Linked DNA regions of Homo sapiens. The protein of the gene in region 2 purifies or fractionates together with the protein of the main gene of each other region. This does not show direct contact. Each region holds a gene or a part of one and is shown on either strand. Other genes may lie near its edges. The genes, in order: TTC4 and MYL4.

Evidence for each region.
Region 1: the proteins of MYL4 (region 2) and TTC4 purify together in Homo sapiens (co-immunoprecipitation; one large-scale study listed by IntAct). This does not show direct contact.

The regions. Positions count from the first base shown.
Region 1 is NC_000001.11:54,725,861-54,729,360, reverse strand, and holds part of TTC4 (tetratricopeptide repeat protein 4), read right to left. Parts: intron 1,016-3,500; coding exon 929-1,015; intron 1-928.
Region 2 is NC_000017.11:47,221,764-47,224,709, reverse strand, and holds the end of MYL4 (myosin light chain 4), read right to left. Parts: coding exon 2,855-2,946; intron 2,331-2,854; coding exon 2,253-2,330; intron 1,697-2,252; coding exon 1,668-1,696; 3' UTR 1,653-1,667; intron 1,202-1,652; 3' UTR 1,031-1,201; downstream 1-1,030. UniProt on the Homo sapiens protein: Regulatory light chain of myosin. Does not bind calcium.

The DNA.
Region 1 (3,500 bases), on a different chromosome or scaffold from region 2:
GCAGGTATTCAGTACAGTAGTGTCCCCTTATCCACGGTTTTGCTTTCCACAGATTCAGTTACCAGTGGTCAACCATGGTCTGAAAATATTAAATGAAAAATTCCAGAAATAAACAACCTGTAAGTTTTAAATTATGCACTGAGTAGCAGATGATGAAATCACGGGCTCTGCTCTTTGGCCAGCACATCCACGCTGTAGATGATACCCACCTGTGAGTTAGCACCCATCTCAATGATCAGATTGACTGTCATGGTATCACAGTCCCTGTATTAAGTAACACTCATTTTACTTAATAAGGACCCCAAAGCACAAGAGTACTGATGCTGGCAATTCGGATATGCCAAATAGAAGCTATAAACTACCTCCTTTAAGTAAAAAGGTGAAATTTCTCAACTTAATTAGAAGAAAAATTGTATGCTGAGGTTGCTAAGATCTATGGTAAGAGCAACCTTCTATCTGTGAAATTACAAAGAAGGAAAAAGAAATTCATGCTAGTTTTGCTGTTGCTGATGTACCTCAAACTGCAAAAATTATGGCCACAGTGTGTGATAAGTGCTTTAGCTAAGATAGAAAAGGCATTATATTTGTGGGTGGAAGACACAAACAGAAATGTGTTCTGACTGATGGCAATCAGGTTTGGAACTATTTGAGATTTCAAGCATCCACTGTGGATCCTGGAATACATCTGCTTCAGGTAAGTGGAGACAACTGTATATGTTACTGAGACCAACACATGCACATGAGAGAGCTGACTGAACTGGGGTGGCCTGACTCCAGAGCCTGGTCTCCTCTGTCACACTGCTTTACCAAAGTAGAAAGAAAATGAACAAATTCCTTCAGGTAAAGCATCCCAAGAAAGGTTCCCAACAAGCTTCACAGGATTAGTGGATTTAGCAGGACCATAAAAACCTAAGGTTTAAGAACTCACCTTGATGGCCTGGAGTAAAGCCTCATTCTGATTCCTCTCCTTCTTTTCTTTCAAGTTGGCTTTCCTCACATCCCTCTGTTCAATTCGCTAAAAATGAAATTTAGATGCATCAGCTCTAGAGACCTGGCTTCCTCTTCTATTGCACTAGCCTGCTCCTAAATTATTATCTCTGGCCTCTATCCAACCCAAGCTCCTGTGTTAAGGAATACCAGTGGCCAGATTCAGTTCAATAAACATTTACAAAGTACATGCCTAGATGTCAGACCCAGTGGCAGCAGCAGTTTAAATTTACTTCCTGTATGTACCCAAGGAACTCACAGTCTACTGAGGGGTTGAGGGGTACAGACAAGTAAAGAGCCAGTATAACAGGTGGATTATGTACTACTCTGGTCGTGTGATCCGAGTGCTACGAAACATAGCCTGGGTGACAGAAACCCTGTCTCTATAGATTTTTTTTAAAAAGTATAACCACCCTAGTGGGTATGCAATGGTATCTTACTATGGTTTTGATTTGCATTTCCTAATTATTAATGATGTTGAACATCTTTTCATGTGCTTTTTGGCCATTTGTGTGTCTTTGGAGAAGTGTCTATTCACATCCTTTCCTCATTTAAAAAACTGAGTTACCTGTCTTATTGAGATGATAAGAGTTGTTTATATGTTGTAGATAAAAGTCCCTTATGACTTACCAATATTGTCTTCCATTCTGTGGGCTTTTTCACTTTTTTTTTTTTTTTTTTTTTTGTAGAGATGAGGTCTCACTTTGTTGCCCAGGTTGGTCTCGAATTCCTGGCCTCAAGTGGTCCTCCTGCCCTGGCCTCCCAAAATGCTAGGATTACAGGTGTGAGCCACTGCATCTGGCCCCTTTTCACTTTTTTCTTCACATTTATCTTTTCATTTTTTTGATGGTATCCTTTGAAGCAAAAAGTTTTTACTTTTGATGAAGTGCAATCAATCTACTTTTCCTTTTGTTGCTTGTGCTTTGTGTCATATCCAAGTTCATGAAGATTCATATCTATGTTTTCTTTTAAGAGTTGTATAGTCTTAGCTCTTACATTTGGGTATTTGATCTACTTTGGGTAACTTTTTTATATAGTATGAGGTAAAGTTCTAGCTTCATTCTCCCACATGTGAATATCCAGTTGTCCCACTATCCTTTGTTGAAAAGATTACCTCCCTATTGAATGGTCTTGGCACACTTGTTGAAAATAAATTCCCCATAAATGTGAGGGCTTATTTCTGAGCTCTAAATTTTATTACATTGACCTATATGTCTATTGTTATGCCAGTACCACAATGCCTTGATTACTGTAGCTCTGTCGTATGTTTTGAAATTGGGAAGTGTGAGTCTTCCAATTTTGTTTTTTTTTTTTTTTTGTCTTTCATGATTGTTGGTCATTCAGAGTCCCTTGAATTTCTATGTGAATATTATGATCAGCCTGTCCATTTCTGCAGAGAAGCCAATTGGACTTTTGATACAGATTGCACTGAAATTAGCCAGATGTGGCATCACATGCCTATAGTCCCAGTTGCTTGGGAGACTGAGGCAGGAGGGCTGCTTGAGCCCAGGAGTTTGAGGTTGCAGCGAGCCATGATCATACCACTGCACTCCAGCCTGAATATTAGAGCAAGTTCATGTCTCAAAAAAGAAAATTACACTGAATTGATACACTAATTTTGGGAGTATTGCCATCTAACAATATTAAGATCTAATCTATGAACATGGGATGTCTTCCTATTTACTTAGGTCTTCTTTAATTTCTTTCAACAATGTTTTTTGTATTTTTAGAGTATAAGTTTTAGCTACTTTTGTTAAATGTACTCATAAGTGTTTTTTGATGCTATTTAAAATGGAATTGTTTTCTTAAGTTCATTTTCAGAGTGTTCATTAAAAATCTATAGAATACAAATGATTTTTGTGTACTGGTGATGTTGTTTCCAACAAGCTTGCTGAACTTAGTTCCAAGAGTTTTTTAGTGGATCCCTTAGGATTTTCTATATACACGGTCAAGTTGTCTGCATATAGATGGTTTTACTACTACTTCTCTTCCACTCTTTCATTTTTGAAGAATAGATTTGCTAGATATAGAATTCTTACAGTCTTTTTCTTTTAGCTCTTTGAATATGTCATTTACCTGCCTTTTGGCCTTCATGGCTTCTGATGAGAAAGCTGTTAATTTTCCTTAGGATTTTTTGTACATAAAGAGTCATTTTTCTCTTGCTGCTTTTAAGGTTCTCTTCTTTGTTTTTCAACAGTTTAATTATAATGTGTTTAGGTAGAGATCACTTTAAGTTTATCCCACTTATAGTTTGTTAAACTTTTTGGATGTATACATCAGTGTTTTTCACCAAATTTGGGAAGTTTATGGCCAATATTTCCCCAAGTATTCTTTTGCCCATTCTCTCTCTTCTCTCCTTCTAGGACCCCCACTATGCCTTTGTTGGTATGCTTGATGGCATCATACAAGTCTCTCTTCATCCTTATTCTTTTCTCATTCTGTTCTTCAGACTGGATAATCTCAACTGATACATCTTAAGTGTGATGATTCTCATTACTGCCTGCTCAAATGCG
Region 2 (2,946 bases):
TGACCTATACAATGGGACATGATTCCGCCTTAAAAAAGGAACACGAGGACATTGTGCTAAGTGAAATAAGCCGGTCACAAAAGACAAACACTGTCTGATTTCACTTATCCAGGGTGGTCAAATTCATAGAAATGGAAAGTAGAATGCTGATTGCCAGGGGCTGGGGGAAGGAGGGAATGGGGAGTTATTTATTGAGTACAGTGTTTCTGCTGGTGGAAATGAAAAGGTTCTGGAGATTCATTACTGATATGGTTTGGCTGTGTCCCCACTCAAATCTCATCTTGAATTCCCATGTGTTGTGGGAGGGACCCAGTAGGAGGTAACTTTCCCATGCTGTTCTCATGATAGTGAATAAGTCTCACAAGATCTGATGGTTTTTAAAAGGGGAATTTCCCTGCACAAGCTCTCTTTGCCTGCCGCCATCCATGTAAGATGTGCCTTTGCTCCTCCTTGCCTTCCGCCATGATTGTGAGGCCTCCCCAGCCATGTGGAACTGTAAATCCATTAAACCTCTTTTTCTTCCCAGTTTCAGGTATGTCTTTATCAGTAGCATGAAAAGAGACTAATACAGTTACACAACAATGTGAATATACCTCACTCTACTGACTTGTATGCTTAAAAATGGTTAAGATGGTAAATTTCATGTTATGTGTATTTTACAACAATTTTTGTTTAAAAGCAGCAAGAGCAAGGACCAAAGGAGGAGTCCCTGCCTCAGCCTGGCCCCTCTCTGCCTGCCATCTGGAGGTGTGATTAGGTAGAGGGTGAGCCCAAAGGGAATAAAACTCCTCCAGGTGACAACTCCTCAAGCTGCTGGCCTTCCAGAGCTTGCTCTCCTGGGTCTGACCCCAATATCTCTAGATCCACAGGCTTTTGTCCTTGTCTCCTAGCTCCCAGATACTACTCATTTCTCTGAGCACACATGAGGCCTCAGGTGACTTTATCTCTCTCTCTCTCACACACACACACACAACGCAAACCAATGCAATTCGTTAATTAGTTTTAAAAAAACAAACAAAACAGAGACTGGTCAGAATCCCAGAGCCCAGCCTGGCCGTGTTAGAGCTGTTTATTAACAGGGAGGGCCTGTAAGGTCCTTGGGGCAGTGGTGTGGTGATAAGTCGAGGACTCCATCTCAGCTCACCCAGCCGGGGCCTCTCTTTAACTCACCCTGGTATGGCTAAAGCCAAGGGCCAGGCACCTGAAAGAAAGTGCTAGGAGGAAAGGGCATTTCACCCTCCTAGACCCAGCCCCTTACCACACCCAGGGGGATCCCAGGGAAAACCTAGGGAAAGAAGTGAGGAAGAACGGGGTCAAGAGCACAGGCCAGGGACCTTCTCTTCCACTTGGGATCGGCTTTCTCACTCCCAGGAGCCTGTACAGGAGGCCCCAGGCCTGAGGGAAGGGCATTGCCTTGAGAGATCCTGGGAGAGGCAAGAGGATGTGACTGATAGGGTCAAGACAGGGTGAACAGGCAAGGGCAGGCAGGAGACAGGAGATGGTGAGTGAGCAGGGCTGTCCTCACTTCCTGATCCCAAGAGGTTTCCTCTTAAGGGGTCAGGGCTGGGACAGATGCCTTCTAGGGCACATGGTGTTATTCTTAAGGCCCTATGTGACCCCGGAAGGGACCAGGAGGGAGAGGCTGCACTCACCTGGAAGACTCTGCTTCACCCTGACATGATGTGCTTGACAAAGGCTAGGAAAAAAGTGAAAATCAGCCACCATGTGGCTCAGCGCCTCTAGGCCCATAAACCACTTGTCCCTTCTCTACACTGCCTGACTTCTAACCCTCCTGCTCCCCTTTCTCCAGACTGTGTAGTTCCTGCTCTTATTTGGGGGTTGGTGGGGAGAAGGTGGGTGGAGGGCAGATACCTAGACTCTGCTCTGTGCCCACTCTCTATGCTGATTCTCAACACAAATGGAATGAACTACATTATCTCTATGAATCCCCACAGCCTTGAGAAAGGTGCCAGCATCACCCCCATCCCTCAGATGAGAAAACTGAGGCTCAGAGAAAATCAGTGACTTAATCAAGCCCACCAGCTAATATATCACAGAGCTATCTCCAAAATCCATGCTCCCGCCATTACACTAGGAGGTTCACTCACAAGATGGAACAGAACAACATCCAATGGGGGGTCTACAAAAACCCACCTCAGACACATACCCTCCAGCTCCTGGGCCCACCCCACCCAAGCTGTTCCCATCCTACCATCCCTGGCTGCCCTGGGATGCAAGGCGCGGCTTAATACCTTCATAATTGATGCAGCCATTGGCATCCTCTTGCCCAGCTAACAGCTGCTCCACTTCAGCCTCAGTCATCTTCTCTCCTGCGGTGGGTTTGGGAGGTGGTGCGCTCTTAATTACAGATGGCAAAGGAGGAACTGGCAATACCCAAGTACCCCCTTAAGTGTGAAGGTCCAAGACTGCCTGGATCTGGGAGGTGGTTCAAACCAAGCCTCTCCCAGAGGTTCTGAAGGGTGCGGCCAAGGGTCTAAAGGTCTTGCCTAGTCTCCGAAGCCTCCCCCTCTGCCTTACAGCTTCCAGAGCCTCAGTGTTTCAGGCAAAGACAAGGACAGAAGCCCTGAGTCCCACCTCTCAGGCCTCAGTAGTAAGCCCTGCTCTGCCAACCTGCTCTCCCCTCCTCTCCCAAACCCTGGTACCTGCTGAGCAAACCCAACTGGGAATGGTTGTTCTTGCAGAGCCCAGGGAGACAGGGCCTGGATCAGGTCATTATCCTCAGGATGCAAAGACCCTTGTATACCACCCCCCACCCAACCAGCATATGTCACCTTGGCACCTCCCACCCCTCCATTCCTCCCACTTGGTCTTCATCTCTGCCCAGCTGGCATACCCAGGGTGGCAAGGACGTGCCGAAGCTCAGCACCCATGACCGTGCCATTGCTCTCCTTGTCAAAGACACGCAGGCCCTCCACGAAGTCCTCA